2 linked regions of the Homo sapiens genome follow. The protein of the gene in region 2 interacts with the protein of the main gene of each other region in a biochemical or structural test. Each region holds a gene or a part of one and is shown on either strand. Other genes may lie near its edges.

Region 1 (7,510 bases), on a different chromosome or scaffold from region 2:
GAAAGAGGACATGCCTTTCAATCCATTACGTGTCATGGTTTCATTGCAAGCAGTTTTTCTAAGAGATACATAAAATAACAGTGCATCTTAGCATCATTGGCATCTGGCGTTCGATGGAATACAGTGGGTACATGTGAGCAAAGTGTGTTGAAAAGGCAACATCTGTTACTCCGTTCTTATTTCTCCATTAACTGCGATTATGAAATTAAATCTGCATCCTAATGGAAAACCCCTCACTCCCACCCCACATATCCTACTTATTTATACATCTATTTAGTCAACAAATGCGGATGCATCTATTCAGTTATCAAATACGTATTAGTGATCTGTTCTGGGCCAGGCACTGAGCTAGATAATGGGAAAAGAGTAGTAAATACGATTCAGTCACACTTGAAATTGTAGCAAATTCTCACACATGTGTGAGAAAGCTGTGCTTTTCTGACTAAATAACATGAATCAAAACGTAGGCCTTAAAAATACAAACTCAGCCAGGCTCACACTTGTAATTCCAACATTTTGGGAAGCCGAGGCAAGAGGATTACTTGAGGCCAGGAGTTTGAGACCAGCCTGGGCAACAGAATGAAACCTCACCTCTATAAAAGAAAATTTTTTTAAATTATCCATGCTTGGTGGCACACACCTGTAGACCCAACTACTAGAGGGAGGCTGAGGCGGGAGGATCACCTGAGCCCGGGAGGTTGGGGCTGCAGTGAGCTATGATCGCGTCACTTCACTCCAGCCTGGGTGACAGAGTAAGACCTTGTCTCAAAAAAAAAACAAAAAAAAAAAAAAACGAAAAAAAAAACTGTGAGAAACGATATGGCTAACAACTAGGTTTGTTCAATTGTAAAAAAAAAAAAATGTTTTAAGAGGTAATATAGGAGAAACATATATCCTTAAAAAATACTTAAAAGACATTCAAAAATCACATGTGGATTTTATATGGGTCTTAATTTAAGTAACAAACTACACGAATGTTATAACATGTATGAAACAACTGAAACTCTGACCACTGGCTGGATATTCACTGATATTGAGAAATTACTGTGAACTTTTTCAGGTACAGTAATGACATCATGGTATTTTTACAGAGCACTTATCTTTTAAATATATATACTGAACTATTATGGAAGAAATGCTATGAGGTTTGGAATTTGCTTCAAATTCCAAAAAATAGTTCAAAAAAAAGCTGAACTATAAAAAATTGTTTTGGGGCCGAGTGCCGTGGCTCACGCCTGTATTCCCAGCACTTTGGGAGACTGAGGTGGGCGAATCACTTAAGGTCAGGAGTTCAAGACCAGCCTGTCCAACATGGTGAAACCCCATCTCTACTAAAAATACAAAAATTAGCTGGGCATGGTGGCACGTGTTTGTAGTCTCAGCTACTCGGGAGGTTGAGGCAGGAGAATCGCTTGAACCCAGGAGGCGGAGGTTGCAATGAGCCAAGATCGCGCCATTGCACTCCAGCCTGTGCCAATAGAGCAAAACTCCATCTCAGTTTAAAAAAAATTAAATAAATAAATTACTTCTGTAAGTCAAAAATGGTTGAAGGGCTGCAATTTCATGTTAGAAGTCAGGAAATGGGAGGGGCTATTGATGAAGCAAAACTGGCCAGGAGCTGATTAAGGTTAAAATTAATCTGAATGATGGCCTATGGGGTAAATTTTACTCAACTGTCTCCTTCCTATGTGCATAAAATCTTTCCACAATGAAAAGTTAAAACAAAATTAGGCCTTTAATACAGTACAATATTTAAATTTAGTTAAAAATAAAAACTAGTAAAAGTGAAACTGAAAGCATCACTGCAAAAACACCCTCCGCCTAAATTTCTTCATCTGCAAAGGGAGGCCAGGGAGCTCGACAATCTCTCTGAGATCCCTGGGTCTGTGACCGCAGTGTATGCTCTCTGCTCAGCCACTGAAGCTCGTCCCCAGTTTTGCAGGGCATATTCGGCTCTTCTCTTACTATTTAACAAGGGCCACCTAATCTATGCATAAAGATCCTCAGACTGTAGGGGAGTTCAGACGACACAGCCTAGTGAGAAGCTGACACACACATGCACATCCCATGGAAAACCCTTGTGGGGTGTGAGAGATGATTCTACAGTGGACAGAAGGCAGCCATTGAGAGCTGTTCTGATAGAGTGCTGACATTGACCACTCTGTCCCCCACCAAAGGGCCTGTGACGGAATGTCTGTAACATAGAGTTCATACATTGTATAGAGGTCTATAACATTTAATACATATTAAAGTATACTTAATAGCCTGAAAATATACTTAATAGTATGAGAATAAGCTGTTGTGGAGTTTAGCTGGCACAAAATGACCACTGGCAACGGCTGTGGTGGCCAGATGGAGGCCTCAGCCTGCCGAGCACAGTGAGAATCTGTGACTTCATTCATAAATTTCCCAGAGAAACGGGATGAGGCAGGGCCCTGTGTACCTCCATGTCTGCAAGTGGATACATGCTGAAGAGCAAACATGTAAAGCACAGAAGACACAAGCAAAGGAAGAAAGAGGACACACTGAGGTCCTGTGACTCATCTTTACAAGGCAGAATATGAGTCATTAATAGGATCCCAACTTTGGCTTTCTCTCTGAATCACCCAAGATTACCTTGATGTGCTTAACTTTGTCTTCTTTTTCTGTCTTTGGTTTCTTTCCTGTGGCAACAAAAATGTAGTTTTGGATTAATTCACGAAGGGCCTCCAGAGAAACATTTCCCTCAAATTAAATTCTTTCTGAAACTCTCAATGAACCTGTTGCTTTAATCTGTACATGGTCAAAATTCCACATGTATCTTTCACTGCCTCTGGTGAATCGAAAGTCTTGTTTCCAAGCCAGGTAGGGGCGGAATGATCCCCTACAGCATGAACAGGCTATTCTACCTGCAAACTGACTGCAGATGTAGAAATGAAGAGATCACGAAGGCACGATGACACAAATTGATTTACCTTATTTTAGTCTGTAAATGCCTTTACCTTTCTTAGAAGGCCGTTCTGATAGGGGCAGCATTCGGTAGACCCTGAAGGCATTATTTCCTTTCTTTATGCTTTTATCCTTGACTTCTTCAATATCAGGCAAGGAATTCATGGCGCATCTGAAATTCGCCTTCCATGTTTTGGGATCAGGTTTATCTACTCCTGGTTGATGCTTTCCTAACAAAAGAGACAAAGATTAAGAAAAAGAGAGAAAACATTAGATACAGAGGAAGGAATTTCTGGAAACACAGTATTGCTGGTCAGGCAGTATAAGGAAACCTTTTCACTCCATGCTATACCTCCAGTGACCAATCGTCCTGGTGTACCTGGGGGTGAGAAAGTTCTTGGGATGTGGGAATTTTGTTTTTAAAACCTGAACAGTTCCAGTCAAACTGGGACAAGTTGGTCACCCTGGTTCTACTGAACAGCTTGAGGAAACTATAAATGCTGGAAGAATGGAGCATCAGCGTAAGAAAAATATAGAAGACTGAGAGGCTGCAAAGTCAACAGGCAGAGGGAAGCTGAGTGCCTCTTTTTCATCTGACGCTCCAACAAAGTCCATTCCTGTAAACAGCTCCCTACGTAAAGGTTGTAATAAATACAGGTATTTCTGACTACCTTTTTGGGGGGGAGATAAATTTGACCAAAGTTTATAGCATCAGAACAACTGAGTTTCTATTCCCCGGTAACACCTAGGGAACTTCTTAGAATACCACATTTATAGGAAATTGAAGGACTAAGAGTGTATGGGATGAGGGGAGCATTACTTCTGAGGGCTGCAGTTTGTACCCCATGTGTCCTGGATGTGCCTAGGGACAAGTCACAGGTTTTTCAGAGCCATCTTCATGAGGTCATAAGCCAGGCTATTTTATGTGTAATAAAAACAAAACTAAGCAAGAGTGCCTTCCTCTATAAACGCCGCAGGGAGTTTTAGTACCTGTATGGATTGCCCAGTTTCTAAAGAGTGGTGCATCTTTTTCCACATCCCACCCATGTCTAGCCGCATGCATCCAGGGGATCTGAAAAATCTTCTTTTCCTGAAAAAAAAAAAAAAAAAAAAGGTAAAGAACTGGAGTCATGGGTTTTGGCCCACCATTGCAAAAGGTTGTGAAGGTCTAGCCAGCAAGATTCCCCAGCAAGCATCGCTGAATGTGTTGACTGCTGACAAGAAAATCTACTGTAAACCAAACCCACTTCCCCCGCTGGATCCCAAATCTTGATAGACTACCCCGAGTGACAGTCAGTCTCGTGAAGTCTTGCAGAGCAGGAATGTTTTCCAAGGTCAAAGGTGATGATTTGACCTTGTGTGTTCCATTATTTGTGCCTCTTTTCTAGTTTTCAATATATTTTTTTGGAGACAGAGTCTCGCTCTGTTGCCCAGGCTGCAGTGTAGTGGCGCGATATCGGCTCACTACAACCTCCACCTCCTGGGTTCAAGAGATTCTCCCACCTCAGCCTCCTGAGTAGCTAGGATTACTGGCATGTGCCACCACGCCTGGCCAAGTTTTGTATTTTTGGTAGAGATGGGGTTTTGCCATGCTGGCCAGGCTGGTCTCGAACTCCTGACCTCAAGTGATCTGCCCACCTCAGGCTTCCAAACTGCTGAGATTACAGGTGTGAGCCACCACACCCGGCCCTGTGCCTCTTTTTTTTATAAAACCACAGAAAAATGGCCACCTACCGAAACTTCTAATGCTTACTCTTATAATTTATTCTCGTCGTTTGGTAAATAGTAACTCCAGCTATCTTAGGTAAATTAAAAATTAGACAAGTTTCCAAAACCCTTGATGCTACTAAAGAAAAGTCGGGTACATCTGAGGCCACTGTCACAGAAACCAAATATCTCCATTTGCTTGTGCATCCAACAGAAATAGAAAGTAATGTTCGAATCCCTGTGGGTCTACTGCCTGCAAGAAATAGCAAGAAGTGCAAACAAAGAGGTAGAGGTTATGAAATGACACATTTTTCTGGAGAAACATCCCTCAATACAATCCTTATATCAGACTATCTCTACATCTCTCTCAGTGTTGAGGTCTGTAACTCAAAACCGCCTCAAGCAACCCTGAAAAACACATGATTGGAAACCCATGGTTTAGTAACAAAGCCGTACTCTTAGTAAAGCTACAGATGAGGAACCTGGCCCAAGCAGCTCTTGTGGCGGTACCGGCAGGTACTAAGGTCCCATTGGCACTGTGCATCTGACTACCCACATCCACAGGGACCTCAGTTTTGTCTTCCTCCCACAGCCTACTGAGTGAGGTATATGTTACGATTTCCATTTTATAGCTGAGGAAACCAAGAAGCAGATTTTAACTATTTAGTCAAGGAACTTGCAGGATAATAAGTGTCTAAGTTCAAAACCCAGGTCATGCGACTCCATATGCTATTACTTAATCACCCACTCATTGTCTCCCAGCTTTTAGATTTGGAAGAGTCCCTGTCCTATGACAGACCAGTTGAGACCTGGATTCTGTGGAGATTAAAGCCCAGGAGGTTGTACTCTTTCAAAGCTCTCAAGGCAGTTCTGGTAATTGCTAGGTATGCGGATCCCTGCACTAGATGCTGAGGAAGGAGAGGAAATGTCAGCAGGGAGTTTCCACCACTTCAGTCTCACATAGTGAAACACAGAAAGGGTCCCAGCTGTCCCCAAAGAGATTCAGCGCCTCTCCACAGAACCAATCACAAAGCCAGAACAAAGACTATTTCAGAACATTGGAGAGTTTCCCAAAACCTGTTAAAAGGAAAATTCTACCATCTTCTAAAAAGTCAGTTATTAAAGGAGAACTGAAAGTGAGAGACTTTTTCATAAATTCCTCGGTGTTCATTCTGTATCATCCACAGAGAGGGCTTCGGGTTAGCCAATTTCAAAAGGACAGTGATCAGAAAGGGGCTGAGTGACATTTTATGCTTTAATGTAGATGAAAATCGACAGCAAAATCACTTAATGCCATTTATTGATGTTCACATGAAAATGAATACAAGTGAAAATTCATTTCGTGAAAGAGCTTTTCCTGAAGTGCATGCCCAGAATCTAAAGCTTTATGCTTAAACACCGAGATTCTTAAGAATTTGCTGTTGCACTTTTTTCTAGATCAAAGGAGTTCTAGGGTGACACAATCTGAAATCTAACTTGCAAGACACAAAATTGATACAGATAAAGTAGATCTTTTTAAGCATCTGCACGCATGCATGCATACACATACACACACACACAACCAAACCTAGTCCCACAGAAACCGCAAAAGCCATGCAACTACAAAAGCGCTGACCAAACCCAGCAACATACACTATGGACCCTCTTGAAATGTGCAACAGGCCTGAGTAGACTGGAATAGTTCAGGTGTTTGTCCCCTCAAAATCTCGTGTTAAAATTTGATCGCTAGTGTTGCAGGTGGGGTCTGGTGGACGGTGTTTGGGTCATGGGGCAGGATCCCTCAAGAATGGCTTGGTGTCGTTCTCGTGGTAATGAGTAAGCTCTCACTCCATTAGCTCCGGTGAGAGCTGATTATTCAAAACAGCCTGTCGCCTGCACCATTCTCTCTTCCTCCCTCTCTTGCCATGTAATGCCCTTTGCCTCCCATCCTGAGGCCTTAACAGAGGCAGATGCCAAGGTCATGCTTCTTGTACAGCCTAGAACCCTGACCCAAAGAAGCCTCGTTTTTTTATAAATTACCCAGCCCCAGGTAGTCCTTTGTAGCAACATGAAACAGACTAACCCACAGACATGTCTCCAAAAAAAGATACACAAATAACAAACGTTGGTGAGGATGTGGAGAAACTGGAATCCTCACACATCGCTGTGGAAATGCAAAATGGTACAGCCACTCTGGAGAAAAAGTTTGGCCATTCCTCAAGAAAGTGAAACACAGAATTACCTGATGATCCAGGAATTTTACACCTGGATATATACCCAAAGAATTCTAAGCCAACATTCAAACCAAAACATAAACGTTCATAGCAGCACTACTTTCAAAAGCCAAAAGATGGAAACAACCCGAGTGTCCATCAGCTGATGAATGGGTAAACAAAATGTGGTATATCCATACAATGGAATATTATTCAGCCACAAAAAGGAATAGAGTATTGACACATGCTACCATGTGGACGAACCTTGAAAACATTATGCTGGATGAAAGAAGCCAGACACAAAAGGCCAAAAATTGAATGATTCCATTTACATGAAATATTCCAGAAAAGACAGAGAGCAGAGAGCAGACAGAGAGCAGAGATCCATAGAGACAGAGAGCAGATTACTGGTTGCCACAAGCTAGGGGGGAGGGAAATGGGAAGTGACTGATTAATGGGTACAGCATTTCCTTTTGGAGGGATAAAAAGTTCTGGAACTGGACAGTGGTGATGGCTGCATGACATCGTGAATGTCACTTTAAAATGGTAAATATTTTTTAAACTACATGTCACCTTTACCTAGTTTTTCATACTTCAGGAAAAAAAAGAAAAGACTAATAAACTTATCAGAAATATCTTTAAAATTGTATCACAGATTCTTTTTTTGAAGAAGACCATATGAA
Region 2 (8,020 bases):
CATCCAGTGTGTGTATTTCTGGTGAAAGTCCACCATGAACACAAAGAAACTGTTGGTTTAAAAGTGCAGCAAGAGGCAAACTATCAAAAGCTTCCATACAAGCTTCATAGACTCTTTCCGAATACTTAATTTTACCTAGAAAAACAAAAAACTAATTGAAAATTACATTACTGGTGGTGGTGTGACCATTTTAAAAACATATATATTAGATTTTTATTTCTTGTTCTCTCCCCTCCTTTATATCTTATAGCTATTTATAATGAAATTGAGATAGTTACAGTTTCAACTGTAGTAATAGCCCAGACAGACAGACAGACAGATGGCAAGAAAATTATAGACAGTAAACAGCAAAGTGGTGGCCAGGGCTTCAGAGTGAGTGAAGGGGTGACTATAAAAAGGTAGCAAGAGAGAACTTATGGCATGATAAAACTTTTCTGTATCATGATAGTGGTAGTGGGCAACTCTATGCAGTGTCAAAAGTCACAGAAGTAAATACCACAGAGAATAAATCTTACTGCACACAATTTTTTTAAGGAAAGCATCTTCCCCTATAAGAATCAACAAAAATATGCAAAGTTATCTGTCTTATGAAGACAAAATATTTGCTCTCTCTAAAATTATTCTCGATGATGTTATGTCTTATGAAGCAAAATATTTGCTCTCTAAAATTATTTTGGATGACAGAAAAGTCATCACGTATTGTTAAAAATAAGTCAGTCAAATCTCTAAAAACAGGCCAGGCACGGTGGCTCACGCCTGTAATCCCAGCACTTTGACAGGCCAAAGCAGGCAGATCGCTTGAGGCCAGGAGTTTGAGACCAGTCTGGCCAACATGGCAGAACACTGTCTCTACTAAAAATACAAAAATTAGCCAGGCATGCTGGTGTGCACCTGTAATCCCAGAGACTCAATGGGTGAGGAACAAGAATCACTTGAACCCAGGAGGTGGAGGCTGCAGTGGGCCGAGATCGTGCCACTTGCACTCCAGCCTGGGCGACAGAGCAAGACTCTGTCTCAAAAAAAAAAAAAAAAGAAAGAAATCTCTTAAAAACAGCTCAACCCTTCACCTTTATCGGCCAAATAAGGCAAAATTAGAACTGTACTTGAGGTTAAAATCATTTTAATACTTGCTTTATTTTATTCTAAGAGTCAATGACTACTTTATTCTTATTACAGGCAAGATGACTACATCATCACAACAAAATTCAAGGTTCATCCATTTTTTCTGAAAAATAAAAGATAATAGCATGCTCATGTCAGAAAAGCTGAGGGGTTCCTCTTGCCTACAATGAATACTTTAAAATGGGCAGTGAAGCAGGAAGCCAATATAGAAACACAAGAAAGACAAAACTCTACCAAATCAAACTATCATTTACTTTTAGAGAGATATCATGCACTTTCATTTGCTCCTTTACAACTTTAAATTCCTATTTTGGTTTTGATGAGATTTTGGTAGGTGGTTTGTTATTTATCTAGGCAAAGAAAAAGAACTTAGTTCCTATTTCCTGTTTTAATACTGTAATATTCAAATATTAAAAAAACTATATATATATCCAGCAACCAGAGATTCTACACTGGCAGTCTGCTAACGACTCTGTTTTCTAGCACTGTGGTTTAATAAAAATTCTAATTTGACTGCTTTTAGGTCAAGCATGCACTTTCCAGGTCTTATCTTACTCATTTAGGTTAACTGCCTGATCCTTGAAGTTATAAGAGTATGCCACTTCTGCCACTACCCATCACTGTATTTTTCTCCTGTTGCTGCAAGTCTCTACTTAGTATGACCTTTATTGGATCATGTTTTGAGTCTCAAAACGTTGAAATTATTTCTGCTTTTAGAATTTAACTCTACTTAATACAGTCATAAATATTAACTTAAAAAGCACAAAGGCAGGCCAGATGCGGTGGTTCACACCTGTAATCCCAGCACTTTGGGAGGACGAGGCAGGTGGATTACTTGAGGTCAGGAGTTAAGAGACCAGCCTGGCCAACATGGTGAAACACCGCCTCTACCAAAAATACAAAAATTAGCAGGACGTGGTGGCGCATGCCTGTAATTTCAGCTACTTGGGAGGCTAAGGCAGGAGAATACTTGAACCCGGGAGGAGGTTGCTGTGAGCCGAGATTGTACCACTGCACTCCAGCCAGGGCGACAGAGCGAGACTGTCTCAAAAAAAAAATAAAAATAACAAAAATAATAAAAAAGCACAAAGGTTTGAGGTGTGAAAAAGGCCTAATCTTGTTCTGTAACATATGGTTACTTACAGGTATTAGATTACCATTGCTATAATAATTTGAGAGAGAAAAGGGATAAACATTGCAGGTTAAGAATTTCACCAACTGTACCTGACTAGTCTTAAAACAATGATATTTAAAAAAACAAAAAAATTTTAAGAAGAATTTCAATCATTAATAGCATGATTGAAATGATCTGCAATGGTAACAGGATAAACAATTTGTTAGGATTCCTCACAGGAATGCCTCAAGATTGAAGGACAAAAATCTCCAATGCAAAATAACATTTTTTTCTTTTGGTTTTTATTTTTTCCTGTTAGAAAAAATATATACATTTTTTTTTCCTGAGACAGAGTTTCGCTCTTGTTGCCCAGGCTGGAGTACAATGGCGCGATCTCGGCTCACTGCAACCTCCGCCTCCCAGGTTCAAGTGATTCTCCTGCCTCAGCCTCCTGAGTACCTGGGATTACAGGCACATGTCACCACGCCTGGCTAATTTTTGTATTTTTAGGAGATGGGGTTTTGCCGTGTTGGCCAGGCTGGTCTTGAACTCCTGACCTCAGGTGATCCACCCGCCTCGGCCTCCCAAAGTGCTGGGATTACAAGCGTGAGCTACCGTGCCTGGCTTAGAAAAATTAATTGTAACATTAAAACTTATATATAAAACTCTAAGTATGTTTGTAAAAGTTAAACATAATAAGAAATTCTGAAATGAAAAAAAATTTTTTTTTTTGAGACAGGGTCTGACTCTATTGCCCAGGCAATTGTCCGTGCAGTGGCATGATCTCAGCTCACTATGACCTCCGATTCCCAGGCTCAAGCGATCCTCCCACCTCAGCCTCCTGAGCAGCTGGGACTACAAGAGTGTGCCGCCACACCCAGCTAATTTTTTTTTTTTGTATTTTTGGTGGAGATGGGGTTTCACCATGTTGGCCAGGCTGGTCTCCAACTCCTGAGCTCAGGCAATCCCCCTGCCTGGGCCTCCCAAAGTGCTGGGATTACAGGCGTGAACCACCATGCCCCACCAAAAACTTCTTAATACCATTAAACACCAGAGAGTGCTCGACAACTTTCCTCAAAGCTTTATGTGTGGACATGAAATCTGTCCTTACATGTTGCACTGTAAAGTCTTCAAAACTCTTACTACCCACTTAAGTCCAAAAGAATACTGAGGAAGTGAAAACATTTCTTCTGGCAGTACTCACATTCCTGCTTAAAGGTAAAATATTCAGTAAGGTGTCTGCATTCATGGTTGCCTCTCAGAAGAAATAATGTGCTTGGGTATAGAATCTTCAGAACCCATAAATATAAGACACACTGCAAAAGAAAATTTTTCTAGTGAATTTATCTTGTACTTTTGTTTAATGAAGCTGCTTGATCTTTGCTCCTTTTCCTCTACTACCCTTACCATCCTCTATTATCTTTCTTTGTCCCTTACTAAAATATAAGCACCACAAAATCACAGATTTTGTCATCTTATTCACTTTTGATTCTCCACTCCCAGAAGAGTACCTAGCAAATAGGAGAAGAGCAATAAATATTTGTTGAATGAATGAGTCAAACAATCTATTTAATTACTTTGGATTTACAGACTGCCCAATATAAAAACAATTAGCACACTGGTCTACAGATGCGTATTAGTAAATAATACTGTCAAAATAACAGCAGCTAACATTTATTAAGTACTTACAATATGTGAAGCACTATATAATTCCCCTAATTTATTCCTCAAACAACACTATGAAGTATGTAATATCATCTTTATTTTACAAATGAGAAACTGAAGCAAAGATCTCAAGTAACTTGTCCAAAACCACAAAACTTCTAAGTGATGGAGATAGGATTCTGATCCTCTGATCTTAAGCATTATGCCATGCTGCCCATGAAGGGAAGGTCCATGTTTTATGTTTGTTTCATTGATTATGAATATTGCCTTACATATGGTAAGTGCTTATTATCTGAACTAATTCAATGCAAATGTAATTTTTCAAATAAAAATATTATTAAACATTATAGCAGATGCTATTCTCTAAATAGATTTAACATAAGAAAGAGACTCACATTTTACTTATTTGCTTAAAAAAGGAAGAAATATTTGATATGGAAATAAGCATGGTTTATATAATCATATGCAAAAAGAAAAAACAAACTTTTTTATTTTTAGAGACAAGGTCTCACTGTCACCCAGGTTGGAGTGCAATGGCACAATTACTGCTCACTGCAGCCTCGACCTTCTGGGCTCAAGAAATCCTCCTACCTCAGTCTCTTGAGCAGCTGGGACTACAGGCACATGCCACCAGGCCCAGCTAAGTTTTTTTTTTTTTTTTTGTGGAGACAGGGTTTCACCATGTTTCCCTGGCTGGTCTCGAACTCCCAGGTTCAAGCAATCTGCCTGACTTGGCCAACCTGTGCTGCGATTACAGGTGTGAGCCACCACACCCAACAAAACTTTATTGTTAATAAATTAAGGTATATCTAAACATGTAACTATTCATATCCTTCATTTTATTCAAAAGGGAAAAAAGTAATAAAATCAGGGAAATAATCTGTTCTCGATGCTTATTTTGATTCTTTGTTATTTTCCTTTTATAACAACAAAATGTATTAAAGGAGTCAGCTACATCCAGGCGCAGTGGCTCACGCCTGTAATCCCAGCACTTCGGGAGGCCGAGGCAGGCAGATCACCTGAGGCCAGGAGTTCGAGATCAGCTTGACCAACATGGCGAAACTCCATCTCTATTAAAAATACAAAAACTAGCCGGGAGTGGTGGTGGGCACCTGTAATCCCAACTACTTGGGAGGCTGAGGCAGGAGAATCTCTTGAACCTGGGAGGCAGAGGTTGCAGTGAGCCGAGATCACGCCACTACACTCCAGCCTGGGCGACAGAGTGAGAGTCCATCTCAATTAAAAAAAAAAAAAAAAAGAGTCAGCTGCAAAACAATCTTACACAAGGACATGCACACCAACTTAGTTACCAAATAAGCTTCATAAAACTGTTTATTTTATTGTTTTGGTCAAATGCCTGAAATTTTTTTGTTAAAATGGGCCATTTTCTGATTTGCCTGAAGCCCTGTGACAATTTGGGAAAAGTTGACGAGGCTAATAATCAACTATCAGCAGGAGGAAGAAGAACTCAAAATAGCAAAATTCCTAAGGGAAGCAGGACAGACAGAGTCTAGAACTTCCTTCCACTCTGAGAATCCTAGCACACCTCAGAAAAAAAGGTATATTGGAAACACTGGAGAAGGAGATATAAACAACAGTAACCAACATAAATTCACCAGGTAAGGTTTCAGTATCTACTAGGGAAGGTGGTTAAAAGCATATGCTGGGAGTCACATTGCCTGGCTATGCTGTTTACTAATAATACCTTGGGCAAGTTACTTAACCTCTCTAAGCCTCAGGTTCCTCATCTATAAAATGAATAAAACAACAGTACTTACCTCATTAATATTATTGTGAGGATTAATCGATATGTCTTCAGTGCCTAGAACATGCTTAGAACATATTAAATGTGCAACACAGGTATCTATTGGTAGAAATTTGACCCCACAATTCTACCTCTAGGAATTTGTCCTACAAAAATAATCAGGCAAGTATGTAAAGATGTATGAATAATATGACTCATTAAAGCATCATTTGTAAAGAAAAAAACTGGGAACATCTTCAGTGTCTAACACAAGGAATTAATTAATTATGGTTTGTTTATTAGATGGAAAACAATGTAGATATTAAAATGATGCTACGAGTTTATATTTACTGACTTGGAAGGATATTTGGTGTAGGCATGTATGAAAAAGCAAGTTACAGACAATATTATAATATGATCCCCTTTTCATTAAAAAAAGAAAAAATGTATATATTGGAAAATACATATTGTTCTACATTTGCTGCATTTTGTTTATATAATTTAAAAAGATGGCAGGGCAATGTGGCTCACATCTGTAATCTCAACACTTTGGGAGTCCAAGGCAGGAGGATCACTTGAGCCCAGGAGTTCAAGACCAGCCTGGGCAACATAGGAAACTCCATTGCTACAAAAAAATTAAAAATTAGTCTAGGCATGGTGGTGTGTACCTGTGGTCCCAGCTATTTGAGAGACTGGGACAGAAGGATCCCTTAAGCTCAAGAGGTCAAGGCTACATTGAGCCATGCTGGTGCCACTGTACTCCAGCATGGGCCACAGAGTAAGACCCTGTCTCAAAAAAAAAGAAAAAGAAAAGAGAAAAAGGAAGAAAAGGAACCATCTACTGTTAAGTGATAATCAAAAGGTCATTTTAATGCCTCAAGTTTTTAAAAACAAATTAATACTTTCCAAATACACAAAGATTCCATAGGATATACTTGAGTCTTAATAGCTACACAAGGAGAAACAGAAGCACTAGGGCTCAAGCAATAAAAAAATCACAATATACTTTATTTAATCAGACAGAATTCAAGTAATCTTTTTTCACATGGTTTAATGCCTTTAGGGGCAAGAGAGATAAATAGCACTAAATTTTTAAGGCCACTAGTTAACAGGGCAATAAAGACCCCTCAGTCAGCTCATAAATTCCACTGGGAAAAAAATGGCAATTATAATTATATAAACAGAGTTATACAAAGAAATTTATTTGAATTGTTTGAAAGACAGAACAGGAATAAATAGTAGCTTTTCATAAAAACTTCAGAATATGCAGAGTTATTAAAAAAACCTAACACAGGTACTTGTGAAAACTAGGATTAAGTGAAAGCATCTGTGTTAACACTTAACAGCAAATCAAATGACAGTTTATGATTATTACCTCTATACTAAAATAACCTCTGTCCACATAATCGCCAAGAAAAAGGTATCGTGTATTAGCAGGTGATCCTCCTACTTCAAAAAGTTTCATCAGATCAAAAAATTGGCCATGGATGTCACCACACACTGAAACAAGAAGATTATTAGATAAGGGAAAAAAATCTCTAAAACAACAAATTTTACTTAAGTTAAAACGTATTTTACATAAGACATAGTACAAATGCTATCAAGAAATGTCTGAGAAGGAAGTAGTCTATGAACAGTCATGATTAGGATGATGTGTAACCAAGTGTTCATGTGCTCAAGATCTAGAAAAAGATGTAACAGAAATAACGAAATTTGTGGTCAGTGACAAACTGAAATCTACATTTATAAAGATCGTCTCTAGGACTCCAAGGATGTGTTTTAAGTTTCAAGATGACAAAATTACAATGGTGGCAGTTAAAATATCCATTCTAACTCAATACTTTCTGTTGCTCTCTAAATGGTCACTTTTGGTATCTGATATGACATCAAGGTATTTGACCCTAACAATTGAAAGCAAAGTAAGTATTGATCAAATTGAAGTATGGTCAACACAATTGATGAAACCTTCACAAAAGCATATTAGACTAACTTCTACACTCAGATTATTTAGAATCATGTCTATTCACTGAAAACAGGCAATCATTTTTAAGTATGGAAAATAATTTGAAATTCAAGATAATGTCCAAGTAATATTGATTTAGCATACAGTATCATTGAAAACAGTAAGTTGTAAATCCAGGCAACTAAATAATGACATAATAAAAATAATACCCAAAACATGAATAAGCTTACCTGTGATTGGAGCTTCTACTTCTATCATGGTTTTCTCTCTCCGAAGGATGGCAGCACCCTCATTGATAATTCTAAGCGCAATTTCTTCATCTACTCGACCTTCTTTCACCAAGTGGTTCTTCAGAACATCAACCCTGGGTATCCCATCCAAATCAAATACTTCTTCAGATGTCAAGCGATGT

Evidence for each region. Proteins that work in one complex are often made in the same cells at the same time.
Region 1: the proteins of PPP3CB (region 2) and IRF2 form a complex in vitro, tested with the Homo sapiens proteins (one study listed by BioGRID).

Annotation. Positions count from the first base shown.
Region 1 is NC_000004.12:184,415,551-184,423,060, forward strand, and holds part of IRF2 (interferon regulatory factor 2), read right to left. Parts: intron 4,019-7,510; coding exon 3,919-4,018; intron 3,159-3,918; coding exon 2,982-3,158; intron 2,664-2,981; coding exon 2,617-2,663; intron 1-2,616. UniProt on the Homo sapiens protein: Specifically binds to the upstream regulatory region of type I IFN and IFN-inducible MHC class I genes (the interferon consensus sequence (ICS)) and represses those genes. Also acts as an activator for several genes including H4 and IL7.
Region 2 is NC_000010.11:73,471,479-73,479,498, forward strand, and holds part of PPP3CB (serine/threonine-protein phosphatase 2B catalytic subunit beta isoform), read right to left. Parts: coding exon 7,839-8,020; intron 7,146-7,838; coding exon 7,021-7,145; intron 5,734-7,020; coding exon of another isoform or gene 5,680-5,733; intron 3,553-5,679; coding exon 3,441-3,552; intron 136-3,440; coding exon 1-135. UniProt on the Homo sapiens protein: Calcium-dependent, calmodulin-stimulated protein phosphatase which plays an essential role in the transduction of intracellular Ca(2+)-mediated signals.